Linked DNA regions of Homo sapiens. The protein of the gene in region 1 purifies or fractionates together with the protein of each later gene. This does not show direct contact. Each region holds a gene or a part of one and is shown in the gene's direction. Other genes may lie near its edges.

What was found.
Region 2: the proteins of SIGLECL1 (region 1) and RANBP6 purify together in Homo sapiens (co-immunoprecipitation; 3 studies listed by BioGRID and IntAct, with this or other methods). This does not show direct contact.
Region 3: the proteins of SIGLECL1 (region 1) and MON2 purify together in Homo sapiens (co-immunoprecipitation; 3 studies listed by BioGRID and IntAct, with this or other methods). This does not show direct contact.
Region 4: the proteins of SIGLECL1 (region 1) and IPO8 purify together in Homo sapiens (co-immunoprecipitation; 3 studies listed by BioGRID and IntAct, with this or other methods). This does not show direct contact.

What each region holds. Positions count from the first base shown.
Region 1 is NC_000019.10:51,246,415-51,254,083, forward strand, and holds the start of SIGLECL1 (SIGLEC family-like protein 1), read left to right. Parts: upstream 1-4,665; 5' UTR 4,666-5,131; intron 5,132-7,669.
Region 2 is NC_000009.12:6,012,602-6,020,538, reverse strand, and holds the start of RANBP6 (ran-binding protein 6), read left to right. Parts: upstream 1-4,914; 5' UTR 4,915-4,931; coding exon 4,932-7,937. UniProt on the Homo sapiens protein: May function in nuclear protein import as nuclear transport receptor.
Region 3 is NC_000012.12:62,546,822-62,553,845, forward strand, and holds part of MON2 (protein MON2 homolog), read left to right. Parts: intron 1-75; coding exon 76-251; intron 252-2,846; coding exon 2,847-3,009; intron 3,010-6,059; coding exon 6,060-6,353; intron 6,354-7,024. UniProt on the Homo sapiens protein: Plays a role in regulating membrane trafficking of cargo proteins. Together with ATP9A and DOP1B, regulates SNX3 retromer-mediated endosomal sorting of WLS away from lysosomal degradation.
Region 4 is NC_000012.12:30,664,846-30,671,869, reverse strand, and holds part of IPO8 (importin-8), read left to right. Parts: intron 1-773; coding exon 774-908; intron 909-2,587; coding exon 2,588-2,687; intron 2,688-5,618; coding exon 5,619-5,695; intron 5,696-6,024; coding exon 6,025-6,141; intron 6,142-6,560; coding exon 6,561-6,650; intron 6,651-7,024. UniProt on the Homo sapiens protein: Involved in nuclear protein import, either by acting as autonomous nuclear transport receptor or as an adapter-like protein in association with the importin-beta subunit KPNB1.

The sequences.
Region 1 (7,669 bases):
CCTTACTTATCCTGCCTCACAACCTCAACGATATTCATATTCTGGCATTTGGGGCTGGATAATTCTTTGGTGGTGGTGGTTAGGGGAGGGTGTGGCAGGTCAGGTCTCCCTAACCGCTGAACAGGCAGGCCTCCATAACAACTGTCTCAGCACTGATTGAGTGGTTAAGTTAAATATTAAAAGCTGACAGAGCCAGTGCCCTCATACAAAGGCTGGAATGTAACAAAAGCCCACCAAGAATTTTGCCCAGGCCTTTTCTGGGCCTTGAGCATAACAAGATAATGAAGGAATTCTTAACAGGACCCGTTTAGGATTAAACAAGTTTTATTGGGGGGTCTGAAGAAACTCCTCTAAGCCTCCACAAACAAGTTTATTGGGGGTCTGAAGGAACTCCCCAAACCTCCATGATTTAGCAGGAGACAAGATAAGGGTAATCACCCCAGCACCTGGACCCATTTAGTTTAAATAAATTTACTGAGGCTACAGAGGAAGATCTTCAGGACTGACATCTTAGTTACAGATTGGAAGAAGTTAATCGCTTACGTCCAGATGAATGCACTCTTACATGTAGACAAATAGCTTAGAAGGTATATGAGCTCTGGAAAACTTTGTAATTTTGAGTTGGTCTGGCAATATTTTCCAGATCTTCTCCCTGTGCCCAGTTACAGAAATAAACTCCCTTCTCTCCCAGTTCACCTGCATCTTGTCATTGGGCTAAGAGAATAAGCAGCCTGACCCTTGGTTTGGTCCAGGAACAAGGGTGCATGGTCAGATGTTGAGCAGCGTCTCTAGGTTGTACACACAAGATGTCAGTAGCTCCCCTAGTCCAGTTTTGACAACCAAAAAAGGACTCCAGATATTGTCAGGTGTCTATCAGGGTGCAAAAAAGCACCAAATTGAGAAACACTGAACTAGAGCCTTCCTCCTCTGTATTCACATAGATACTTGAACAAAATGAACTTTCTCTAGTTCTTCAAGTTCACTACGAAAACCACTATGTTGCCCAATTTCTTTTTTTTTTTGAGACAGAGTCTGGATCCATCACTCAGGCTGGAGTGCACTGGTGTGATCTTGGCTCACTGCAACCTCCACCTCCTGGGTTCAAGCAATTCTCCTGTCTCAGCCTCCCAAGTAGCTGGGACTACAGGTGCCTGCCACCACGTCCAGCTAATTTTTGTATTTTTAGTAGAGACGGGGTTTCACCTTGTTAATCAGGCGGTCTCGAACTCCTGACCTCAGGTGATCCACCCGCCTCAGCCTCCCAAAGTGTTGGGATTACAGGCGTGAGCCACCGTGTCCGGCCGTTGCCCAATTTCAAAACAATTTAGTGCATTTGAAGAAGTTTATCGCAAAGCAAAAGTACACCCTGAGAGGCAGACGGAGGGAGAGATAGCCCCTAGTGTCTCAAGGGTCTCAAGACCCCCAGTAAAACTTGTTTAATCCTGAACGGGTCCTGTTAAGAATTCCTTTGTTATCACATTTATGAAGACGGTCTTGAGAAATCCTGAGGTTCTAATTTCTTTGTTTTCCAAACTTTTCCTGCATGCCTACTACATGCTACACCAATACAGGAGTTAAGAAGGAATTACTTAGGCCCAGAGCAAGGGCATGGGAGTCCTTGGTAAGGCTTTTCTTTTTAATGAAAAGCAGCCCCAAATCAGTTTCTAACAAAGAGCAGCCTGCAACCTGGGAGCTTGCATGAGTGAATGACGGCAGGAACTAAGGAATGGACATTTTCAAGATGGCCGCTCCATCTTCCCTTCTCTGTCACGTGCTGTAAGGAGCAGACAAGGTGGCACTGATCAACTGGAAAGTCCATTTGCATAAGAAGATTAGGGTGGGGTTACCAGCCTTCCTTGTGTGCTATTTAAACATTATACCCGATCAAACCAATCTATGAGCCTTATGTGAATCAGACACCACCTCCTCAAATGGGACTATAAAATTTGCAGCATTCACCACCAGATGGTCTTTTTTTCCGTTCCAAGACCCCTTCCTCTTTAGAGGAAGCAGTTTCTCTTTCTCTTCTCTTCTACCCATTAAACCTCCACTCCTAAAATCCTCGTGTGTTTCTGTGTCCTAAATTGTCCTGGCATGTGCCAGCGGAACCCCATGTTTATACCCCAAGTAACCTAGCTGCTTCAGCTCCTCCAAGAACATCAAAAGGAAGAAGATACAGTCCCTGGCTCATATGAAAATATAAACTTAGACACATTAAAATTTTAAAGAATTTATTTGAGCTGACATTCATGAATCCAGAAGTGCCAAACCACCTAGTGGGCACACAAGGAAAACTTTTATAAGGTATTCCTGGAATCAAAACAAAGAAAATAGTTTCATTTGGTTAAAGGGGAACGGTAGCCTTAAAGTTTGTAATTAGAGGTCAACTTGCAGTTTCTGATTGGTAAAGTCTCTACTTAGAGGTTAGTAGGCAGTTTCGATTGGTTAAGCCTAAGTTTCATTTTTCTAGGATATGACCATTCACTTTGAGTTAGGTTTGAATTTGCTTACTTGGAAACAAAGGCCTTGGAGCCATCTCAGCCTAATGGCTTCCCAGTTAGTTATTTTGACAATTGGGAGAGCTCAAGTTCATGGGGTAATGTTTGGGAAAGGGACAGAAATAGGTAACTTACTGAAACACAGTATGATAAGGTTCCTATAAAGATGGCAAAGGATATAAATTATGGGGATAATTATGGCCTAGGGTCTGGGGACCCAAGGGCAAGAGCTTTCAGGGATGGGAAAGAAGTTAGAAAAGGCTTCTCAGAGGAAGCCCCTTTCTAACTGCACCTTGAAGGGAAAGCAAGAGCCAGCAAGCAGAGAAGCGAGGAAAAGCAGTTTAGGTACTGATAATATCAATTACAAAGCAAGGAGGTAGAAGAGGGGCTGGCAGATGTTTAGGTAATAGCAGTCAGTCTGCTACAGCTAGGGTAAAGGGAACAAAGTCAGGTCCCCTCTCGGGAAGTCTATCTGGGGCCTGCTCTGCAAGCTGTAAGGGCCATGGAGTAAGGCCCTGGAGGGTGAACATCATCCTTCAGTCTGTCACATTAAAAAAAAAAAATCTGCACATAAATAAGGCAAGATTTTATCCAAAACAATTATTCCAATAAAGGGAGAAGAATCTTTGCAGCAGTGGAAGGGGAACTGCTGCAACAGGGAGGTGGAGACTGTTGTAATAGGGAGTGGAGGTCTCCCATGTACCATAAAACAAAACCAAAAAGTGAGCTTCTATTCTAGTGGCACAGTCAAACCATAAACAAAAATACCATTAGCAAATGATATTTAGCACAAAGTGTTTTTGTTACAGGAAAGGGGTTCTGATCCAGACCCCAAGAGAGGATTCTTGTATCTCTTGCAAGAAAGAATTCAGGGCTATTCCATAGAGTAACGTGGAAGCAAGTTTATTAAGAAAGTAAAAGAATAAAAGAATGATTACTTCATAGAGCAGCCCCGAGGGCTGCTGGTTGCCCATTTTTATGGTTATTTCTTGATGACATGCTAAAGAAAGGGTGAATTATTCATGCCTCCCCTTTTTAGACCATATAGTGTAACTTCCTGACGTTGCCATGGCATTTGTGAACCGTCATGGTGCTGGTAGGAGTGTAGCAGTGAGGATTACCAGAGGTCACTCTCATTGTCATCTTGGTTTTGGTGGGATTTGGCTGGCTTCTTTTTTTTTTTTTTCCTTTTGAGTCAGAGTCTCACTCTGTTGCCCAGGCTGGAGTGCAGTGGTGCAATCTCGGCTCACTGCAACTTCCACCTCGCGGATTCAAGCGATTCTCCTGCCTCAACCTCCCAAGTAGCTGGGGTTACAGGTGCCTGCCACCACGCCCAGCTAATTTTTGTATTTTTAGTAGACAGGGTTTCGCCATGTTGGCAGGCTGGTCTCAAACTCCTGACCTCAGGTAATCCGCCCGCCTCAGCCTCCCAAAGTGCTGGGATTACAGGCGTGAGTCACCGAGCCCAGCCTTGGCTGGTTTCTTTACTGCAACCTGTTTTATCAGCAAGGTCTTTATGACCTGTATCTTGTGCTGACCGCCTATATCATCCTGTAACTTAGAATGCCTTAGCCCTCTGGGAATGCAGCCCAGCAGGTCTCAGCCTCATTTTACCCAGCTCCTATTCAAGACGGAGTTGCTCTGGCTCAAATGCCTCTGTCATTTTGAAAGTGTAATGGGTAAGAAAGTGCGTGACGGATAAAGTGTGAGAAAAAATAAACAGGGTTAAACAAGAGGAACGGAGTCCTCAGGGTTGGAGAGGAGTGTGGTTTCATCAGCACGGGCTGGAAAGGCCTTGCTGGGAAGAAAATTGGCCCACAAACTACCCTGGCACCGCCCCCAGCTGCGGATTGGCTCAAGCCCTCAAGATCCAATTGGGCACAAAGGTTGGAGGAGGGAGTTGCAGTTGCAGTTCCTGATTGACTCTGGCAGCCGTGCATCAGCTCCCAGGGGCACACGCCTGTGGGCACAATGCTTCTGCTTCATTGATTGGCTGTAGAAAAAGCTCATGCAGCCTCTGATTGGCTATAAAATAAGCCCATGCAGCCTCTGATTGGCTGCAACATAAGCCCATGCAGCCTCTCATTGGTTGTAAAATAAGCACATGCAGCCTCTGATTGGCTGTGTAAAGTAAGCCCATGCAGCCGCTGATTGGCTGCGGGTGGATGCACTCACCTAAGGATGCGAGCTAGCAGGTCTTGCAGCGGCTATCACGCCCCTCACGCCGCTATCTCTGTGCAGCCGACTGAGGATCCCTAGTCGCATAAGGCTGTGCCTGGCCTGTTGGCGTCCCTGGCAGTTGTTGGGTTCTGGCGGTTGTTGGGTCCCTGGCAGTTGTTGGCGGTTGTTGGGTTCCTTCATTGAAACTGCACTAACTGGGCTTCCAGTCAGCGTCAGTCAGCGGATCCTTGGGCCGTGGGGCAGCCGCAGGTCGGTTAGGCCACCAGGGCGGCTCTCGTGCCAGTGAGGCCCCTGAGAGCCCTTTGGTCAGACAGAGGCTAAATCTGAACAGTCAGGCGGTGAGATTAAGCATAGTCAGGGAGTTCGCCAGGAGCCAGCGTTCCTCAGCCTCCACCACGTCAGTCACCTGGTCAGCCAGAGGGCAGCTGGGGCGACATCCATCTACCAAGAAGGTAAGCAAGCGGCCCGTGGGTTCACAATCAGGTCAGTGCCCTTATGAGTCAACGGTTAGTCCCTTTGAAAATCAGTTCATGAGAAAATCCACTCCCTTCAGAACCTGCCCTGTTCATTGGTTAGTTAGGCTCCCGCTAAGTCGGTCTCTTGGTAAGTTACACCCCTGCAAGGCACCCAGTCATTACTCACACAGTTATCCCATGTGTGTCTATCAGTTTCATTGTTAGTTATCCTGGCTTTCCCTAGAAAATCGTTTTCCTCACCATAAATAGGTCAGTCATTAGTAAGTCAGCCCTTCCCTTAGAAAGCCGAACACCTTTGCATCACTCACACCCTGCTAAGGAAATACACAGATGGAAGTGTGCTGAGAACAGAGAATATCCTGAGCCCTTTGGAACAAGAGACAGAAGGAAAATTGAGAGACATGATGGTGAAGGAAAATTGAGAGACATGGTGGTCAAGGAAAATAGGCTGGGCGCAGTGGCTCACGTCTGTAATCCCAGCACTTTGGGAGGCTGAGGCCGGGGATCACTTGAGGTCAGGAGTTCAAGACCAGCCTGGCCAACATGGTGAAACCCCGTCTCTTCCAAAAATACAAAAATTAGATGGGCATCGTGGCCCGTGCCTGTAGTCCCAGCTACTCGGGAGGCTGAGGCAGGAGAATCACTTGAACCCCGTAGGCAGAGGTTGCAGTGAGCCAAGATCGTGCCACTGCACTCCAGCCTGGGCAACACAGCGAGACTCTGTCTCAAAAAAAAAAAAAGAAAAGAAAAGAAAAAGAAAATATAATGGGTGCATGACGAGTCATCACATGTATGCTCTAAAACTGATGGAGAGAAGAAAGAAGAAATCAGAATTTTGTACTTAAATGGATCATTACATCTCCAGCAGTAAAACCCACTCATGTTACACATGAGGAAATAAGAAGAGGGAAAATACTTGACCACAGTTATTCAGTGCTTTACTGGCAAATCCTGGCCCAGGACCTAGACAAGGCTCATTCCGACCATCTAACATGGGCTTTTAAACAGAAGAAAGGGGAAGGAAAAAAAAATTGACAATGCAAAAAGAAAGTGGATATGTGGCGTGAATGAGAGAGGCATTTAACGACCTGGAAACTTGGGCGATATCTTTTTTATGTGAGAAGGAAAAAGGGCAATCAGTCTGGAGGCTAAGGGTTGGGAGCACAGACCACTCAGAGAGGTCTGTTAAAACATGCCGAAATATGGAATAGGAAAGGACAGGGCTGGTTCCAGAACTCTGGGAAGGGATTAGGGGTGGTCAAGAGTGGTCCCAGGCTGAGTGTGTTGGTTCACGGCTGCAATCCCAGCACTTTGGGAGGCTGAGGTGAGAAGACTGCTTGAGCCCAGGAGTTCGAGACCAGCCTGGGTAACATAGTGAGACTCTGTCTCTACAAAAAAAATTTTTTCATTAGCTGGACCTGGTGGCTTGTGCTTATAGTCCCAGCTACTCTGGAGGCTGAGGTGGGAGGATCACTTGAGCCTGGAAAGTCGAGGCTGCAGTGAGCCATGTTCATGCCACTGCACTCCAGACCCTGTGTTAAAAAAAAACAAAAAAAAAGTGGTTCCAAGTTAAATGCTGATAGGAGCTAAGCAGGGAACCTAATACATAGTAACTAACATTTTTTGATTGCTTACCAAATGTGAGGTTCTGTTCTACTGACTCATTTAATCTTAACAACAACTCTAAGATGGGTGCTATTATTATCCATGTTTTTAAAATGAGCAAGTAGGCCTAGAGAGAGGTGAAGCTACTTGCACACTATAAAACAGCTAACCTTCATATCTAGGCAGTTTGACTTGAATTTAAAATTTAAAAAAAAGAGAGAGAGAGAAGCTGGTTGTTTGAATTTTTTGTGAAGTGCTCTGATTATTAAATGTTATCCCATTTTAAAAGTTAGTTTTAAAAAGTAAGCATTTGTAGGCCAAACAAAATTCATTTATGATTGTTTTTAGTCTCTGAAGCAGGCTGACAGTGAGGGAAGTGACTTACCCAGAATCACCCAGGAAGTAGCGACAAAGATTAGGTCTTCTGACTTCTGGTCCACTTCCAGGAAAAATCTAAGTATACTGTGTGTCACATCAGGGCTAGCTGATTTATTCTTATATTTTATTCATGAGGAAGTGAATTTGGAGAGGAGAATGAACTTCACCATGCTTATACAGCAGTTTTTAAGGCAAAATAGAATCATGAAAAAGACACCACAGTTGTAGTCAAAGGTTGAGTCTGAAATCTATGAACGTAACGGCTGCATGTCTTGGGGCCAGTCATAGTACTTTTGTGGATCTCTGCCTTCCTTTTGGAAGTGTTGATAATGAGATGTACCTCACAGAGTTGTTGAGACTAAGATAAAAGATAAAATTTCTACGTCTCTAGAGTTGTAAATGGCAACCATAGTTTCTCATTAGATGTTAACCAAAAAAGTAGTTAACAGTCATGGCATGATTCAGTCATTCCCAATTGATTCACAGCAGGGCACAGTGGCTCATGCCTGTAATCCTAGCACTTTGGGAGGC
Region 2 (7,937 bases), on another chromosome or scaffold:
AGCAAAGAGCAGGAGGACAGGGGATTGATCTCCCAAGGGAGGTTCCCCGATCCGAGTTATGGCACCAAATTTCACTTGCGTCTGTGTGAAGAGGCCACCAAACAGGCTTTGTGTGAGCAACAAGGCTGTTTATTTCACCTGGGCACAGGCGGGCTGAGTCCGAAAAGAGTTAGTGAAGGGAGATGGGGTGGGGCCGTTTTATAGGATTTGGGTAGGTACAGGAAAATTACAGTCAAAGGGGGTTTGTTCTCTGGCTGACAGGGGTGGGGGTCACAAGGTGCTCAGTGGGGGAGCTTTTGAGCCAGGATGAGCCAGGAGAAGGAATTTCACAAGGTAATGTCATCAGTTAAGGCAGGAACAGGCCATTTTCACTTCTTTTGTGTTGGAATGTCATCAGTTAAGGCAGGAACAGGCCATTTTCACTTCTTTTGTGATTCTTCAGTTACTTCAGACTATCTGGATGTATACGTACAGGTCACAGGGGATATGATGGCTTAGCTTGGGCTAGAGGCCTGACAGATATGATACCCTTCATGATCTGGCCTTTATTTAACTTTCTGTCTTCCTCCTTCCAGCTTCCTGTATCATCCCCAGACCCCCTCAAATCCCATGCTCACCGCCCCAGCATTACTGAAACACTGGCAGAACTCTCATCACAGTACACCTGAAGGCCTCTCTGTGTCTGAAAAAGCTGTACCCTTTACTTAGAACAACTTTCTCTCTTTTCAAATGGTTAATGAGGACTCATTCTTCAAAAGTCAACTCTGATACCTCCTCTGGGAAGCCTTACTTGATCAACCCCATACCCAGAGTAAATTAGCTGCCTCCATAACCCCATATGGCTCCATGGCAGGCTTATCATTACTACAGTGATCACTACGCTATGTGACATTTACTATCTCTGTTTACTATGAGATTCACATATCTTCATGAATTTAGTCTTTAATACCAGCAACTCAGCACCATGCTTGAGTGTACCCTCAAAGAATGCTTGCTGAGAGACTAATTGAATAATTGCATACTCTTTTTCTTTCTTTTTGTTTTGAGACGCAGTCTCGCTCTGTCACCAGGCTGGAGTGCAGTGGTACAATCTTGGCTCACTGCAACCTGCGCCTCCCGGGTTCAAGCAATTCTCCTGCCTCAGCCTCCCAAGTAGCTGGGACTATAGGCACGCGCCACCACGCCCAGCTAATTTTTGTATTTTTAGTAGAGATGGGGTTTCACCATGTTGGCCAGGATGGTCTCAATCTCCTGACCTTGTGATCCGCCCAACTCGGCCTCCCAAAGTGCTGGGATTACAGGCATGAGCCACTGCACCCGGCCAAATAATTGCATAATCTTAACCCAGAATTTTTCAAACATTTTTTTCTTTTTCTTTTTTCTTTTTTTTTTTTTTTTGAGATGGAGTCTCCCTCTGTCACCCAGGCTGGAGTGCAGTGGTGTGATCTTGGCTTACTGCAACCTCCGCCTCCTGGGTTCAAGCAATTTTCCTGCCTCAGCCTCCCTGAGTAGCTGGGACTACATGCGCACACCACCAAGTCCAGCTAAATTTTTTGTATTTTTAGTAGAGACGAGGTTTCACCATGTTGGCCAGGCTGGTCTCGAACTCCTGACCTCAGGTGATCTGCCCAACTTAGCCTCCCAATAGCCTCCCAAAGTGCTGGAATTACAGGCATGAGCCACTGCGCCCAGCTCATTTTTTTCAAAGAGGTTGTACCAATTTACCTATACTCTCAACAAAAATATAACTGAGTTTCCTGTTGTTCCACATCCTCAGCAACCCTTGGCTTTGTCAGACTTTTAAAGCATTGTGGTAGGTCTGTGGTGGTGTATCACTGTGGTTTTTTTCAATGTCTTTCATATGCTAGTGGATATAGTATTAAGTAATTAATTAATTATTATTAACATTTCCTGAAACGGCAAATGCAAAGTCCCTCCAGTTAGACTTTTTGAAGGAACAGTAAGAAAACCAATGAATGGGCCAGGTGTGGTGGCTCATGCCTGTAATCCTAGTACTTTAGGAGGCTGAGGCAGGTGGATCACTTGAGGTCAGAAGTTTGAGACCGGCCTGGCCAACATGATGAAACCCTGTGTCTACTAAAAATATAAAAATTAGCTGGGTGTGGTGGTGCATGCCTGTAATCCCAGCTACTCAGGAGGCTGAGGCAGGAGAATTGCTTGAACCCAGGAGGCAGAGGTTGCAGTGAGCTGAGATCGTGCCATTGCCCTCCAGCCTAGGTGACAGAGCGAGACTCCATCTAAAAAAAAAAAAAAAACAAAGAAAGAAAGAAAACCAATGAATGCACAACTGTAGTCATAATCTTAGAACCAGAATTGATCTTATCAGCGATTCTCAAATGTTGGTATTTATATAAAAACCCAATGTGCTGGTTGAAATTGTACATTCTTAGTCCTCAGTCCCCCCAGAATTCTGGGTTAATAGGAACTTGGGCCCTAACATCTATATTTTAAAATAGGTATCCCAAGCAATTCTAATGCAGTTGGTTTTCAGTCTACAGAATGAGAAATTCTATTTTAGAAAATAGCTCTGTTTCATATTACAGTGTCTTTTTTATGAGACAGAGTCTTGCTGTGTCGCCAGGCTGGAGTGCAGTGATGCAATCTCGGCTCACTGCAACCTCTGCCTCCCAGGTTCAAGCGATTCTCCTGCCTCAGCCTCCCGAGTAGCTGGGACTACAAGCATGTGCCACCACGCCCAGCTAATTTTGGTACTTTTAGTAGAGACGGGGTTTCACCGTGTTGGCCAGAATGGTTTTGATCTCTTGATCTCGTGATCTGCCTGCCTCAGCCTCCCAAAGTGCTGGGATTACAGGTGTGAGCCACCATGCTCGGCTACAATGTAATTTATGAGACTACCTACTTTGTCTATCATCTGGTTAATGTAAAAGCTACGACTTTCTAATTTTTGTGGGTATATGCGGCAGCACTTTACAAAAACAAAATTAAGGCTGCTTGGAAAAGTTTAAGACAGAATTTGCAGTAAGTGAAGCCTCTGATCATGCTGCAAAACCAAGAGTAGTTAATGGGGAAGCAATATGGTGAAAAGAGCATCAGTGTCACTTTCAGAAGAGGTAGAATTGAGACTCAGGTGTGTCATCCTAGGCAAATCCTGTAACTTCCCTTAGTTTCCACTTCTCACCTAAATTTAGTATTATATCTATCCTAGCAATCTCTCAATTCTGTATAAGGGTCAAAATGAGTGTGGCAAGTGCTAATACAAAAGTAAGACCTAATCATTGTTATAGGAATGAAACTTGTTTTTGATTGACACACCTGCCTGAATTAAAGAAACAAACTGGCCAGGCGCGGTTGCTTACACCTGTAATCCTAGTACTGTGGGAGGCCGAGGCGGGTGATCTCTCACGAGGTCAACAGATCGAGACCATCCTGACCAAACATAGTGAAACCCCGTCTCTACTAAAATACAAAAATTAGCTGGGCGTGGTGGCATGCGCCCATAGTCCCAGCTACTCAGGAGGCTGAAGCAGGAGAATTGCTTGAACCCAGGAGGCAGAGGTTGCAGTGAGTTGAGATCGCACCACTGCACTCCAGCCTGGCGACAGAGCGAGACTCCATCTCACAAAAAAAAAAAAAAAAAAAAGAAACAAATTTAGTTTCATCAACATTTGTTTCTTGGAATAACCTCAGCAGCTTCCCACTAATGGTTAGTTAGGATTCTAGTTAACCGCATCCCTTCATATTTCAGTTTAGACAAGATGCAAGGAAAATCTTGAGTAACTTGTCCTAGGATACAAAATTAATTTAGTGACAAGGCCAGGATGCAAGTCTGTCTTCTGATTATTAGTTCAGATCACTTTCTACCATACTTTACTCAGTTGTCTTTCCCATTCTTTATTATAACCAACAGGCCAGGTGATTCTGACACACACCAGATTTTGAGCTACCACTCTACTGCATTAGATGTGGTAGTGGGGAAGTAATTATTATTTTATTATCACACTTATTATTTTATAAAGCTTTATTGTAGTATTATTTATATGCCATACAATTCACCAATTTAAATTTAACAACTCAATGGTTTTTAGTATAATCACAGAATTGTGCAACCATCACAATTAATTTTAGAACATTTCATCACTCAGAAAGAAACACCCTATTTGATAGCAGTCATTCTCTATCCTCCCCTCCCCCCAACCTCTGGCAACCACTAATTTCTGTTATACAATTTGCCTGTTTGGTACCTTTCATACAAATGGAATCATACAATATGTGGTTGTGACTGGTTTCTTTCACTTGGCATGTTTTCAAGATAGACTTATTGTTTTAAAATTATCAAAGTAACAATATAGTTTAGAAATAAAAGAAAAAAATCACTCATAATCTGACCAGAAGCAGTGGCTCACACCTGTATTCCCAGTACTTCGGGAGGCCGAGGCGGGCAGATCACCTGAGCCCAGGAGTTCGAGACCAGCCTGGGCAACATGGCGAAACCCTGTCTCTATAAAAAACACAATTAGCCGGGCGTGGTGGCGCGCGCCTGTGGTCCCAGCTACTGGGGGAACTGAGGCGGGGAGGATCGCTTGAGCCCAGGAGGTTGAGGCTGCAGTGAGCAGGGATCGCGCCGCTATACTCCAGCCTAGGTGACACAGCCAGACCTTGTATCCAAAAAAAAAAAAAGTCATGATCCCATTCTAATCAATGCTTTTCTTCTCTCGCCTGCAAGTGCACGTTTATCTTATTGAAAAACAAATGGAGGATGCCATTGGCCTCCACACGGCTCTCACCTCTCTCCAAAACCTAGCTCGCAGCCTGCCAGAGCGCAGCTAGAGTTTCTGGGCAGAGGAGGGAGAAGCACCCCGCCCATCCCCGCCGGCGCCTCGCCTACGTCACTGCTTCGAGCCGCAGACCCCCTCCCTCCTTCCCGGTCGCGGTAGCTTTGACAGAGCGCAATGGCGGCAACCGCGTCTGCAGGGGTGCCGGCGACCGTGTCAGAAAAGCAAGAGTTTTACCAGCTTCTGAAGAACCTGATCAATCCAAGCTGTATGGTGCGGAGGCAAGCAGAGGAAATCTATGAAAATATCCCAGGTCTGTGTAAGACTACCTTCCTCTTAGATGCCGTCAGAAATAGAAGAGCAGGTTATGAGGTGAGACAAATGGCTGCCGCACTGCTACGACGGCTTTTGTCCTCTGGGTTTGAGGAGGTTTATCCAAATCTGCCTGCTGATGTTCAGAGAGATGTCAAGATTGAACTGATTCTGGCTGTTAAGTTAGAAACACATGCTAGCATGAGGAAAAAACTTTGTGATATTTTTGCAGTGCTGGCCAGGAATTTGATAGATGAGGATGGCACTAACCACTGGCCGGAAGGTCTGAAGTTTCTTATTGATTCAATCTACTCCAAAAATGTGGTTCTATGGGAAGTTGCACTTCACGTTTTCTGGCACTTTCCTGGGATTTTTGGGACCCAAGAGCGGCATGATTTGGATATCATCAAACGGTTGTTGGACCAGTGTATTCAAGATCAAGAACATCCAGCAATCAGGACATTATCCGCTAGAGCTGCAGCTGCATTTGTACTTGCTAATGAGAATAATATTGCTCTTTTCAAAGACTTTGCAGACTTGCTTCCTGGAATCTTACAGGCTGTGAATGACTCATGCTACCAGGATGATGATTCAGTGCTAGAATCCCTTGTTGAGATTGCAGATACCGTACCTAAGTACTTGGGTCCTTATTTAGAAGATACTCTACAGTTGAGTTTGAAGTTATGTGGAGACTCTAGGCTTAGTAATCTGCAGCGCCAGCTGGCCCTCGAAGTTATAGTGACCTTGTCTGAAACTGCCACTCCGATGTTGAAAAAACATACAAATATTATTGCACAGGCAGTTCCTCATATATTAGCAATGATGGTTGATCTACAAGATGATGAGGACTGGGTAAATGCTGATGAAATGGAAGAAGATGATTTTGACAGCAATGCAGTTGCTGCGGAGAGTGCACTAGACAGACTGGCTTGTGGGCTTGGTGGAAAAGTTGTTTTACCAATGACCAAGGAGCATATCATGCAGATGCTTCAGAGCCCTGACTGGAAGTATCGACATGCTGGATTAATGGCCTTATCTGCCATTGGAGAAGGATGCCATCAACAAATGGAATCAATTCTAGATGAAACAGTTAACTCCGTTTTGCTTTTTCTTCAGGATCCTCATCCAAGGGTGAGGGCTGCAGCCTGTACTACACTTGGACAGATGGCTACAGATTTTGCACCTAATTTCCAAAAGAAATTTCATGAAACAGTGATTGCAGCTCTGTTACGTACCATGGAAAATCAAGGTAATCAGCGTGTGCAATCACATGCAGCTTCTGCTCTTATTATTTTTATTGAAGACTGCCCTAAATCATTGCTAGTTCTATATGTGGATAGTATGGTGAAAAATCTACATTCCGTCTTGGTGATTAAACTTCAAGAGTTGATTCGGAATGGAACTAAGTTGGCTTTGGAACAACTTGTGACAACCATTGCATCAGTTGCAGATACAATAGAAGAAAAATTTGTCCCATATTATGATATATTCATGCCCTCACTAAAGCACATTGTTGAGCTTGCTGTTCAGAAGGAACTCAAGCTTCTGAGAGGAAAAACTATCGAGTGCATTAGCCATATTGGTCTTGCTGTTGGGAAGGAAAAATTTATGCAAGATGCATCAAATGTGATGCAGCTGTTGTTGAAGACACAATCAGACTTAAATAATATGGAAGATGATGACCCTCAGACCTCTTACATGGTTTCAGCATGGGCTAGAATGTGTAAAATTCTTGGAAAAGATTTTCAACAGTACCTTCCACTGGTTATCGAGCCTCTTATTAAGACTGCTTCAGCTAAACCTGATGTTGCTCTCTTAGACACACAGGATGTGGAAAATATGAGTGACGATGATGGCTGGCAATTTGTAAATCTTGGAGACCAGCAGAGTTTTGGAATTAAAACTTCAGGACTTGAAGCAAAAGCAACTGCTTGCCAAATGTTGGTTTACTATGCTAAGGAGTTAAGGGAAGGGTTTGTGGAATATACAGAACAAGTTGTGAAGCTGATGGTTCCTTTACTGAAATTTTATTTCCATGACAATGTTCGAGTGGCAGCAGCAGAGTCCATGCCTTTTCTCCTGGAATGTGCAAGAATTCGTGGCCCAGAGTATCTTGCACAGATGTGGCAATTCATATGTGACCCCTTAATCAAGGCTATTGGTACTGAACCAGATACAGATGTGCTCTCAGAAATAATGAATTCTTTTGCAAAGTCCATTGAAGTTATGGGAGATGGTTGCCTTAATGATGAACACTTGGAAGAACTGGGAGGAATACTGAAAGCAAAACTTGAAGGGCACTTTAAAAACCAAGAATTGAGACAGGTGAAAAGACAGGAAGAAAACTATGATCAACAGGTTGAGATGTCTCTGCAAGATGAGGATGAATGTGATGTTTATATTCTGACCAAAGTATCAGATATTTTGCACTCATTATTTAGTACTTATAAGGAAAAGATTTTACCATGGTTTGAACAACTACTTCCATTAATTGTAAATCTAATTTGTTCAAGTAGGCCATGGCCAGACAGACAGTGGGGATTGTGCATATTTGATGACATCATAGAGCACTGCAGTCCAACTTCATTTAAATATGTAGAATATTTTCGGTGGCCAATGCTACTAAATATGCGAGATAACAACCCTGAAGTCAGGCAAGCTGCTGCTTATGGCCTGGGTGTCATGGCACAGTTTGGTGGAGATGATTATCGTTCTTTATGTTCAGAAGCTGTTCCACTTCTGGTAAAAGTTATTAAGTGTGCAAATTCCAAAACCAAAAAAAATGTCATTGCTACAGAGAACTGTATCTCAGCAATAGGGAAGATTTTGAAGTTTAAGCCTAACTGTGTAAATGTAGATGAAGTTCTTCCA
Region 3 (7,024 bases), on another chromosome or scaffold:
ACTTGAAAAGCAACAGTAAAGCCTTCTTGTCTTTTTGGACTTCTCTTCCTAATTAGTTTCTTGCCCCCTTTTCAGAGGCTGCAGTTGCTTTTATTGAACCCGTTAAAGGAGATGTCCAATATTAATCATCCAGATATTCGACTCAAGCAGTTAGAATGCGTGTTGCAGATTCTGCAGAGTCAGGGAGACAGTCTTGGGCCTGGATGGCCATTAGTGCTTGGAGTCATGGGAGCAATCAGAAATGATCAAGGGTAAGTATTTAAAATTATTTGAGAAAAAATATGTATGAAAAATAAAATATAAATAAAATAAAATTAACATCAAAAAAGTGATAGAGGTAGAGAAGGACTCCATCCTAAAATCTTGAAATAGTGGTTATTTTTTTCATGTATGCGCTTCCTGCTTAAGGCTAAGATCTGTAATAGTTTTTCTTAACTCTACCCCTAAGTGGCTACAGGCAATTTTTAGGGATCACCTTTGGTTTGGAAAGATGGAAAAATTGCTCTTTATTTAACATTCATGCAAGAATACATGATTCTTACTTATAAGATACTTGAAACAATTAACAAATTTTATAACACATCCAAAGATTGGGCTGTTGTGTTTTGTTAAATTATTTGATAAGATGTGAATTAGCATTTAGGGCTTGACCTCCCTATATATATTAGGCAGTCAGAAATTGCTTTAAAGTAACTTTTTCATTACTTTTTAATTTATTAAACATTTATTCTGTGCAGAGTGTATTTCAAATACTATACATGGTAGTTATTCTGATTACACAGGTAAATAGCTCCTGCCCTAGACATAGAATCCTAGTGAGAAAGTATAGTTATACGCTGCCTAACGTTTCAGTCAACAACAGACCACATATATGATGGAGGTCCCATAAGATTTTAATACTCTGTTTTTACTGTACGTTTTCTATGTTTAGATATGTTTCGGTACATAAATACTTATATTATGTTACAATTGCTTACAGTATTCAGGACAGTAGCAAGCTGTACAGGTTTGTAGCCCAGGAGCAATAATATACCATATAGCCCCGGTGTGTAGTAGGTTATATCATCTAGGTTTGTGTCAGTAAACTCTGTGATGTTCATACAGCAACAGAATCGCCGAATGACACATTTCTCAGATCATATCCTCATCAGTAAGCAACACATGACTGTAGTTTGTTATGCCACAAAATAAGAAACCTTCAGCAGGAGGAGGACAGAGGCAAAATTATGAAGGAGATCTTATATGGTTATATAAATGATTTGAATTTATCCAAAATTCATGTGGGAGACATTTTGGGATTTTAAGCAGAGGAATGACTTAATCACATATGAATTTTATAGATATCACTGTGACAGCAGCATGGAAGGGAAGGTAGGAAATGAGAATGGCTACAAGTGCTCACTAGAAATAAGAGATGGATTTGAGCTACTTAACGGATTGACTGTAGCGAGGCATAGGGGAAAATAGCAATCAGGAGTGACTTCTAGATTTCTGACTTAGGCAGTTTAGTGGGGGATGGTAGTATCATTAACTAAATAGGGAAAAGACAAGGAAGAGCAAATTTGGAGGGGACATATGGACTTGTTTAACTTTTGGGGTAGGAGATTGCAGTGGAGAGATTAAGCAGACAGACATTGGATAGATTTTTCTGTAATTCTGCAGTATCACACTTTTGTTTTGATGACTAGTTCGGAAGTTGTAGACGACCAAGATGCTTGAGAATATTATGGAAAGTTAATTTTTCTTAAATATTTATAGTAATAAAATTCTTTACTACAAAATATTGAGATGCTTAAATTGAAGAATCAGCTTAGATCAAGCTTAAGTGTCTTCTCCCAACCTATAATGTGGTGTACTAAATAGGGCATTGTAGTAAGGGTATAATGAATTAATGGGTGTAAAACAGTTAGAAAGTATGTGACATACTAAGCACTCAGAGTATTAGCAATTATACTTATCATTTTCATTACTATTTTTTACCACCAGGATTTTTCTCCAAAACTAAATACTTCTTATTATCTTTATTTGAAATTCAAAATTTACTCTTTTCTCACTGACTGGATGTGGGTTTTTATATTTCTTTGGAGATTTAAATAAGATACAGTACGGATATAAAAGAATGAGGAGCTCTTTTTCAGTAAATTGTGTGTATTTACATGTACTGGACACTGTACTAGATATCAGGGATACAGTGAGGAGAAAAATAACTGTAGCAAACTTGCCATTCTCATTTATTGTCTAAGTTTTCTTTGGTTAGTTGGTATGAAATACAAATAGAAGTAATATGATGTTAATACTTTATTTTTAAATTTGTTTTTATTTCTTATTGCCTGTAAGCTTCTTTCTTTGTTTTTGTTAATTTGTTTAAGTAAGCATGTCTTTTTTACATTTATGTAAATGTTAAAATACTTTATGATCAATATTAGGAGTTTCTTGTTTAAATTCTGAAATAAAATTTTACTTCAAATTATTGTAAGATATGTATTTTTACACATTTCTTTTAAATGCATAAGTAAGGCTGGGTGTGGTAGCTCATGCCTGTAATCGTAGCACTTTGGGAGGCTAAGGCAGGAGGATCACTTGAGCCCAGGAAATTGAGACCAGCCAAGGCAACATAGTGGGACCCTGTCTCCACAAAAAAAAAAAAAAAAAGGGCATGGGGGTGTGCACCTGTAGTCCCAGCTACTGGGGAAGCTGAGGTGGGAGGATCACATGATCCAGGGAGGTTGAGAGTGAGGCATGATCGCACCACTGCACTCCAACCTGAGTGGCAGAGTGAGACCCTGTCTCAAAAATAAATAAATAAATAAAATAAGTGCATCTGTATACATTTCTTTTGTTTTCAGAGAATCCTTGATACGAACTGCATTCCAGTGTCTTCAGTTGGTTGTGACAGATTTTCTACCAACAATGCCTTGTACTTGCCTGCAAATAGTTGTAGATGTTGCAGGTAGCTTTGGCCTCCATAACCAAGAACTCAATATTAGTTTAACTTCAATAGGTTTATTGGTAAGTATCATTGTCCTTAGAATATAATATAATTTAGAAATCATTGTTATTCAGTTGGGAGTGAATGCTAAGCAAATATACTTTTAGCTCTTTGCAAATTGTTTATATGGCTTTTAAATTTCAAACTTACGTCTGGGTGAAGGATTAAATAACATCACTTAAATATTAATAACAAAATGTTTGAAATAATTTTCATACATTGAGCTGAAGTTTGGGTTTTACAGGGTTTGTCATGAAAGGGTTTAGTAAACAATAGTATATACAAGGGAAATCTTCAGTTGACTTTTATGTGAACCAATTACATTAGCCCCTGACAAGAAAATCAGCTTGTACTTTGAAGCCTTGAAGCCAAGCATTGACTTTTTATCTTTAGCCATGAAAGTCCTACATGACATCTTCAAGTACAAGGCTGTTTCAGGCTGGGCATGGTAGCTGATGCCTGTAATCCCAGCACTTTGGGAGGCTGAGGTGGGAGGATTGCTGAGGCCAGGAGTTTGAGACCAGGCTGGGCAATAAAATGAGACTCCCATCTCTACTAAAAATTAGCTGTGTATGGTGGTGCACACCTGTAGTCTCAGCTACATGGGAGGCTGGGATGGGAGGATTGCTTGAGCCCAGGAATTGGAGGCTGCAGTGAGCTATGATCACAGCACTGCACTCCAGCCTTGGCAACAGACCCAGACCTTGTCTCTGTAAAAAAAAATGATAATAATAAAAAGGCTGTTTTGTCTACATTGAAAATCTGTTGGTCAGTGTAGCCACCTTCATCGGTGATCTTAGCTAGATCTGGATAACTTGCTACAGGTTCTACATCAGCACTTGCTGCTTCACCTTGTACTTGTAGGTTATGGTGATAACGTCTTTTCTTAAACCTCATGAACTAGCCCCTGCTAGCTTCAGACTTTTCTTCTGCAGCTTCCTCACCTTGCTCAGCTTTTATAGAATTGAGGAGAATTAGGGTCTTTCTCTGGATTAGGCGTTGGCTTAAGGGAATCTTGTAGCTGGTTTGACCTTCTATCCAGACAGCTGAAAGTTTGTTGATACCATCAATAAGCCTGCTGTACTTTCTTCTTTCTTTCTTTTTTTTTTTTTTTTTTTTTTTTTCTGAGACGGAGTCTTGCGCTTGTTACCCAGGCTGAAGTGCAGTGGCATGATCTTGGCTCACTGCAACCTCTGCCTCCTGGGTTCAAGTGATTCTCCTGCCTCAGCCTCCCATGTAGCTGGAATTATAGGCGCCCGCCATGATGTACTTTCTTATAGTTTGTTTGTTCTTTGGAGTAGCACTTTTCGTTTCCTTCAAGAACTTATCCTGTGCATTCACAACTTGGCTCACTGGCACAAGAGGCCCAGGTTTTGGCCTGTCTTGATTTTCGACATGCCTTCCTCACTAAGCTTAATTATTTCTAGCTTTTGATTGAAAGTGAGACAAATGCGACTCTTCCTTTTACTTGAACACTTACAGGTCATTGTAGGGTTATTAATTGGCCTAATTTCACTGTTGTTGTATCTCAAGAAATAGGGAGGCCTGAGAAGAAGTAAAAAGATGAGGAAACAACCTGACGATGAAACAGTCAGAAAACTCACATTAAGTTTGCCATCTTACATAGGTGCGGCTCATGCACCCCAAAATAGTTGCAATAGTCACATCAAAGATCACGGATCATAGATCACCATAACAGACATAGTAATAATTAAAAAGTTTGAAATATTACAAGTATTACTAAAATGTGGCACAGAGACACAAAGTGATCACATGCTGCTGGAAAAAAACGGTACCAACAGACTTGTTCAATGCAGGGTTGCCACAAACCTTTATAAATTGCAATTTATAAAAATTACAATTATCTGTGAAGCACAACAAAGAGAAGTGCAATAAAACAAGGCATCTCTGTAATGAAATCTTAGAGAATTGTTAACATTACATGAAATAAACATGCACAGAATTGTTTTCAACATATATTTTAAGGCAATTATTTAGAATCTTTTAAATGTATATTAAAACTCAGAAGTTTTATAAATTTGAACTTTAAATTTTCCTCACAAGCTAGATAAGTTACTACATTCATCTCTTCCTACGTTCAGCTCTTAATATTTGTGGCTTCTGCATCTGTAGATTCAACCAACTATAAATAGAAAATTTTTTTTTAAAACAAGATAGTTGTATCTGTACTGAACATGTACAGGCTTTCTTGTCAATATTACCTAAATACAGTATAACTAGTTACATAGCATTTACCTTATGTTAGGTATTAAAAGTTACCTAGTATTATTCAAAGTATACAGGAGGATGTGTGTAGATTATATTCAAATACTACACCATTTTATATAACAGACTTGAGGATTTGTGGATTTGGGTATGCAGTGGGAGGTCCTGAAACCAATCCCCCACGGATACCGAGGGACAACTGTATTTTACTATTACTATTATTTTTCCCATTTTTACATGGGAAAAAATGTAAGCATGTTGCATATATGATTGCAAGTGGGTGGCTAGTGCAACATTGCTTAAATTACTGCTGGATAGCACCTCCTTTATTTTACATTTATGTTCACAGTACTGGATTCTCTACATTTTAACCATTGGCATAATTATCATTAATATAAGATATGTTTGGAAACAGTAATTGCTCGTGTATGAAATTACAAACTTATTAAACAATATTAAGGAATTGTTAACATTGTTAGGGTGATAATGATATTATAGTTTTTTTTTATAGTTAACAGTTGTTATATTTAGGTGGTAGATACATCAATATGTTCAAGTTCCTTATACTATTCTTGGTTTTTTGTATGTTCTTGACATTTTTTATAATAAAAAAGTAAAAAAAAAAAAGTTAGCTCAAGATTGTTTCCCCACTTTCTCCTGAAATAATGTAGAGACACTGACAGAAGAAGAGATGTTTTCATTGAATCTATTCTACTAGGAAAGAGATTTTTGAAGTAATGTTTTTAAAGTTTTACTCTGAAAGGTAAAACAGCCACATGTTGCATATTTATGTGTTTAAAACAAAACCTTGGATGAACTAATATTTTTCTACTTTGCTTTTTAGTGGAATATTTCAGATTATTTTTTCCAAAGAGGGGAAACTATTGAAAAAGAACTAAATAAGGAAGAGGCAGCACAGCAAAAGCAGGCAGAAGAGAAAGGAGTTGTTTTAAATCGGCCATTCCACCCTGCACCGCCATTTGATTGCTTGTGGTTATGTCTTTATGCAAAATTGGGTGAACTATGTGTGGATCCCCGTCCTGCTGTCAGGAAGAGTGCAGGGCAAACTCTGTTTTCTACAATTGGTGCGCATGGAACTTTATTACAGCATTCAACCTGGCACACTGTTATCTGGAAGGTATTGTAAAATAGATTGGACTATCAGCTTTTAATGAGTCATGCTTATATATTAATACTTTTTCAGTTAAACTTATTTCTTTTAATTTTTAAAGAATTTCCATGCATTTGTGTATTTGACAAAACAGGAAATAACTGTGTCATATTGTAAATTGTACCTCATAAAGAGCAAATTAAATATTAACAGCCTTATCTCTGTTTCTGTCTTCATCTCTTATTATTATATCTCTCGTGATTTCTGCCTTTGCCTTTCTGTCTCCTTTTTTTCCCCCAGTTTTCCCAAATGGTAAAAACCAGGAGTTACTAAACAACAAAGGGTAATCAATCCCTTACCATAGAGTAGAAAGCTTTTGGGGTTTTTGTTTGTTTTACTTTTGAGGTCTACTTATAGATATGTAATTTAAATATAATCAAAAGAGAATTTTATTAACAGATGAATATCAATAGCAATGAAGTTTATTTGTAGACTCACCAAACAAAAGTAACCTCCAAATGGTATATTGTACATGTAATGTTTATTCATTAAATTACAATTTCATTTTTTTCTTCTTTTGAAACTTTCTAATAAAATCAGCAGTTTATTAGTGATCATTCCCTCTTTGCTAAAAGTCTCATCTTTTTTGTTCCATCTGTTCCATTATAATAAAATTCTGTTTATAATCCTTTCACTTG
Region 4 (7,024 bases), on another chromosome or scaffold:
GTTAATTTAAATTTTTTCAGGGGGCTAATCAGTTATGCCAATACTATTTTTTGAACAACTTTTCTCTTCTAATTTGAAGAAGTCTTTATGAAATAAAGAAACATCTTTGTGCTGTCTCTTGTTGTATGGAAGTTTTTAATGTTTCTTTAGTCAGATCTGTTATTGTAATTTTTTTTTTTTTTTTTTTTTTTTTTTGAGGCAGAGTCTCGCTCTATCACCCAGGGCTGGAGTGCAGTGGCGCGATCTCGGCTCACTGCAAGCTCCGCCTCCGGGGTTCATGCCATTCTCCTGCCTCAGCCTCCCCAGTAGCTGGGACTACAGGCACCCGCCACCACGCCCGGCTAATTTTTTTGTGTTTTCAGTAGAGACGGGGTTTCACCGTGTTAGCCAGGATGCTCTCGTTCTCCTGACCTCGTGATCCGCCCGCCTCGGCCTCCCAAAGTGCTGGGATTACAGGCTTGAGCCACCGTGCCCGGCTCCTGTTATTGTAATTTTTTAAACAGGAGTTTTAACTTACTTTGAAGAGCTAGCAGTGGAATAGAAATTTAGACTTTGCCTGGAAGTTACAATGAGACACCGTTTAGTTCAATATAACATGGACCTATCTAATAATTAAAGCTGTTTATCTGAGCTTTCTTACAAAACATTGATTTTTCTCCCAAATCTGTTTATTTTTCTATGGATTCTGAATTTTAGGTCATGCCAAAAATGGCACCTCCCCCTTTTAACCTTATAATTGTTTATGTTAGTCTGTATTTTCTGTTTTCTTATAGGTGCTACTAAAAATTTTAGATCAATATAGACAGAAAGAATATGTAGCTCCCCGTGTTCTTCAGCAAGCATTCAACTATCTCAACCAAGGGGTGGTTCATTCTATAACCTGGAAGCAGATGAAGCCACACATACAGGTTAGTGTCAGAGAGCAGCTCTCCAAAATTATTCTCTGGTTAAATTAGGTTTTCTAGACAAAGTTAGTATTACTAATCCTATATTTTACATTTTATATATATACATTTTACCATTAATAATTTCTAATGAGTGAAGTCCTATGTCAGATATAAAGGGCTTAGAAATTTAAGCATTTGAGAAAAGTGAAGCCTTCAAGTTTTATGAGTCGGGAGACCTGGATTCACTTGATCTTGCTTAATCTCATTAAGCCTCATTTTCTCCTCTATTAAGGCACATAGTGTTTTTCTATTCTTATCTAAAAGTTGCTAGGATTAAATGAGGTATTTTGTGAGAAAGTATTTTGAAAACTTACCAGGGCTCTACTAAGGTAGTGTTATTTTGCAGGAATTGAAGACTGATATGTGACCGTTTTATTTTGTAGGTATGAGCAAGGTTTTTATTTATTTTCTTGGATTGTTAAGTTCAATAGCATCATTGTTTCTATATCGTTTGCCTAAAGGTAGAATTCAGTATTGTTATTTAGCTAAAGAACAAATGGGAATGGAAAATTATAGGCCACTAATAAATAAATACTTCCTTGTATACAAATAATTGGATAATTTGACAGTCTTAGGAACTGAATACCTACTCTCTCCCAAACTGTGAATTCTTAAATTTTATAAATGATATCTGAAAAGAAAAATCTTTCACTTTGCTGTTTGCTGTCCAGGATAGAATTTTAGTGTTATTACCCGTCTTACCAACAGATATCTTTTCTTTGATTTATGTAGATATCTTAATAACTATTTGCCTAATCACTTTGATCAAATAGTGATAATTTCTTTGCAATTAATTAATAAAGATACTGATTTCATTTGCTGTGTTCCTGTAAAGTAAGGGTGAGTTGTGATAACATTTCTTCTCTACTTCATACCTTTGGCTTTATTTTTACATAGCTGTAAAGTAGGAATAAGAAAACGCTGATCCTTAGGCTGAATTTTTTCACTTAGAATTATTTAATTTGGAATTAAGTGGTAAGAGATGATCCTGTTTTTATATAAATTGTTGTTAGAGCCTAAAAGGGCTTAATAGGACATTAGTAGCAGTGCACAGAGAGGCTAGTAGATAGGACTTTTCTCTAACTGAAACATTTGTGGAGTAGGAAATTAGTTTTTTTGGGAATAGAAGTAAAGAAAATTCCAATTTTTTTTTTTTGGAGCTGGAGTCTCACTCTGTTGCACAGGCTGGACTGCAGTGGCATGATCATGGCTCACTGCAGCCCTGAGCTCCTAGGCTCAAGAGACCCTCCAAGATGGACGCCACCATGCTTGGCTACGTTTTTATGTATTTTTTTGGAGATGGGGTCTCGCTACAGTGCCCAGGCTGGTCTTGAACTCCTGTCCTCAAGCGATCCTTCTGCCCTTGGGCTTCCAAAGAGGTAGGATTACAGACATGAGTCACCATGCCTGGCCCTTTAATATTGTTAATACATGGACATTTAGGACTAAAATGGAAATGTTAAAAAAAATTTCAAAATAAGAACTATAATAGTAAATATAACCTCGACTTGACATTTTACACACACACAGAGTTTGGAAAACTAACATCATAAAGGCTGTCAACAAGTACATTATTAGTATTCCTCAAACTTGAATAGCCTATACCCATTTGTTACGTTTTTTTTTTTTTCTCATTTTAGAATATCTCTGAAGATGTGATTTTTTCTGTGATGTGTTATAAAGATGAGGATGAAGAGCTGTGGCAAGAAGATCCATATGAGTATATAAGGATGAAATTTGGTAATTGAGATGGTTTTATTTCTCATCAGTTCCTGGATATGTAAAGTAATATAACTAAATTTATATTTTTAAGCAAATGTTATTACTTTATTAAATCTCCCAGGTTCTGTTTTGCATGACATAATCTGAAACTTTGAGAGTTTGATGTTATTTTGTTGAACTAGAGAACTGGAGATTGTCGGATGTGGGAGATGAAAAGCCACCTCATTCATCTCTCTTACGGGTGCTCAAGTTGAGCCATCTGTTACTTATGCTGTTGCGATGCTGATCTGCAGGGACCATCCGTTTTTGTGCCTTTTGGGAGACTCATTTATAGATTGGGTTGTTCTCATGTGGGAAATACTTTGGATTTCTGCATATTTTAGGGGTACCCCAATTTGGTTTGCTTGCTTGTCTGAGAGACTAAGTGTTCCACAAGGGAAATAAATTTCGTATGGGGGCCCTACTGTGTGTGGTCCAATTCTTTGGGTGTCCTTTTAACTTGGATCTTCCTGGAAACTGTTGAATTGTGTAGGTGGCCTGATTTATTCCCTTTTATTCCCAGTTTGTATTAATTGCTTCATGGAACACTCAAGCACTTAACATAGCAAAATATTAATTTGCATACCTATCTCCCACAACTTAGAAGCTTTCTCAGGACAGGAATTTTACCTTATTTGCTTAATTTTGCATTTTCTGTCTCTTCTACACCTCTGCATTCCTCCACTAGTGCTTGGCCTCCAGTATGCCTTCAATACATGTTGAAAGAAATGATTGCTAAATCTAGCGCTGCGTGCTGAAAGTGCTGTAATGAAGCAGTGCTTTCCCCTTAGTTGAGCCAGGTGTGTCTAGCTACGTAAGCTAAACCTACTGGTACAGATGCTAGTTTTTTGGGCTGTGTTTTTACAGAGCTTTGTGTTTATATTATTTGATTCAGTAAGTGAGGATCCTGTTTTCTCTTGGAGACAAAGTATCAGAAAAGCAAATCAATGAGAAACATTTATCATCTGCTTGATTTGTTATTTTTCTTTTGAAAATCATTATTCATATGTGTAACTTATTATTTCCCCTTTCTTATGCCTTTGTTTTTCTAGTTTGCTTTGAGTGATTAGCCAACCATTCTTCTCTCTCTCTCTCTCTCTCTTTTTTTTGTTCCAGTGACTCTCCCACCTCAGCCTCCAAGTAGTTGGGGCCACAGGCATGTGCCACCACACCTGGCTAATTATTTTTTGCAGAGACAGGGTCTCCCTGTATTTCCCAGGCTGGTTTCGAACTCCTGGCTTAAGTGATCCTCTTGCCTTGCAAGGCATTCTTTTAGTGTTTACTTCTTTCATAATACCTATGTGTTTTTGTGATGTACAGAGTATTTGTTTAGCTTTCAGAAAGTTACCATTATTTATATATTCTTCATATCTGATAAGATAGGTATACATACCCTAGTTTTTAGAAAATAAGAACTCTATGTCTGTTGATTAACAGTGGGAATTTACATTTTATTGTTTAAAAGCGGATATGGGTAACTCAAGACTGACTAGCTGAAGTGAGTTTTCTTTAATCGTTTCCTTCTGTAGACTGGAATGCAGTGGCTTTTATTTGATATGTGTATTTTACTTTTGGGTAACCATAGGGAAGAACAATTACTGCATTTTCTTTTTATATGTTTGGCACTTGCAATTATTTACGTGAAACAAAGCATTCCTATCTAAATGTATTGACTGATTAATAATAATGTTTTAGTTTATTCTTTTTATCTACTCTTTAACCAACATCTCCTCACTTCCCCCAATAATGTTTTTTGATTTGGTAAGAACTAACAAGAGCTCAGGCTTTGATGTTAAGATAGCGTGGGTGTGAATGCTGGTTTGGTCACTTACCTGCTGTGTGACTGTGGACAGGTTACTTAACCTCTCTAAAATTCAGTGCTTTCAGCTGTCAAACGGGTGATGATAATAGTGCTGGGAGGATTAAATGGGATAATACACATGAACTAACTGCTTAGCATAGAATACAAGATGCTTCTAAAACTGTAGCATACTGCTTGGCACAGAGTAAGTACAGTACTCCAAAAATGTTCTTATTATGTTTGTATTTTATATTTTGAGGTAGACTTAGATTTGGTTTTATCTTTTGTATTTAAACAAGGACTTATCAGATACCTCTCAAGACTTCAGTTTCTTATGTAAAACTGCCTATTCTGAAACTTGTGAAAATGTTCATGGTATTAAGTGATATGTTAAGTTTTAGATAGGTATATATTCAACAAAACCTGCTGAACTTACGTATCGACAGAGCCAGGCATGGTCCTAGCAGTCCTTCAAGGCTTTTATACTTGCTGTTTCACCTGCTTGGAGTACTTTATCCATGGATTGCTTTCTCCCTCATTTCATTCAATTTCTGCTTAAATGTTACCTTAACAGAGTTGGAGAGGCTTTTGCTAACACCCTATTTAAACTAGCACCCCATACTCTGTCACTCTGTCTCTTTACCCTATTTTACATTTGTTCTTAGCCTGACTTATTATGTGTGTATATATGTATAATGTGTTTCTTTGTTTCACGACATAAGCTCCGTGAGAACCTTTTTGTTTGATCTTTGTATCCCCGGGGTCTAGAATGGTACCTGGCACATAGTAAGAGCTGAGTGAATTTTTGTTGTTTTTTGATAGAAATAAAGCACTTTTTCTGTTCTCAGTGAAACAGATGTGTAAATGCATTGTTTTCTTCAATATAATAGTTTGAAAGGACAACCTGTAGAGTTTGAGGAACATTGTTTTGTGCAGGAGACAGCAATGTTGTGGTGCCACTGTATATCCTTACCTTTTTAGTACTGTCAAGCAGTGTCATATGTGGATGGTTTTATTTTTTTGGTTTGGAATAGCGGTCAGTCAGGTTTAAAATCTAGAATAAGTAATTATATTTTCACTAACATGGTTTTAACCTTTTAAAATCTTAGATATTTTTGAAGATTATGCTTCTCCCACCACAGCAGCCCAGACTCTCTTATATACTGCTGCAAAGAAAAGAAAAGAGGTATTTCATTTTTCTTTTTAAATCCAAAACTGAAAGGTGGCCTGTGTTGAGTTGATACTCTAGTATATCCCTAGTATTTGAGAAATTATGTTGTTATTCGTTATAATTTGTCACCTTAAGGATTTTTTTTTTCCTCTCCTGGTGAGGGGAAAGGGGGTATCATGGTTATTTCGTTTTCTTAATAAATTATACTTTTCTTATTGAGCTTATAGTTGCTTGATAAAACATAATAAAATGGCTTTATTTTTAAAAATTTGTGCATCATAGTTAATACTATAGTAAGACAATGAAAGTTCATGTAGACTAAATGGATTCTTCTGTTTCTTTAGGTGTTGCCAAAAATGATGGCATTCTGTTATCAAATCCTGACAGACCCGAACTTTGACCCTAGGAAGAAAGATGGAGCCCTGCATGTGATTGGTTCCCTAGCTGAGATTTTACTGAAGGTTAAGATAATCAAAATTTAATTTACTTAATAACATTGTAAAGTACAGGCAAATGAGAGAATATGAAAGTTATGGCTAATTTAAAGCTGGTGACTACCTCTGGATAATTGAGTTCACAACTATCCTCCTTTCTGTCATCTATTTCTTTAATTAAAAAGAAAATTTGACTGTTTAAAGTTTTCAGTATGAAACTATTGATATGTGAAAGGGATACAAAGTATCTTATGTCTACAAAATCAATCAATATCAAACTGATATAAGGTAATATTTGTCTTGTTTTAAAACATGCAATATATAGGTCAAATAATTTTACAAAATTAGAAGTATATTAAATGCAAGTCATAGTAAACACACTTGATTAGGAAGTGATTCTTACGTATGAAAAAGAAATTGATAAGTTGAAATTTGTTTCCTAATAGAAGAGTTTATTCAAGGACCAAATGGAGCTGTTTCTACAAAATCATGTATTTCCATTATTATTGTCTAACCTGGGATATCTTCGAGCTAGAGTAAGTTTTTCATATTTCTGTTATGTATCTTAAATCTTCATAAGATAATTATTCAAATAAATGTTTTTTGGATAAATTGACCTTTTGCCACATATTGAGATGAAATAGAGTCAATTAGAATGTCTGCCTATGGTCACATCAGCTGAATAAAGGACAGACTATTAAAGAAAAAGATTTATAGGCTGGGCGCAGTGGCTCATGCCTGTAATCCCAGCACTTTGGGAGGCTGAGGTGGGCGGATCACTTGAGATCGGGAGTTTGAGACCAGCCTGGCCAACATGGTGAAACCCTGTCTCTACAAAAATACAAAAAATTAGCTGGGCTTCATGGCAGGCGCCTGTTATCCCAGCTACTAGGGAGGCTGAGCCAGGAGA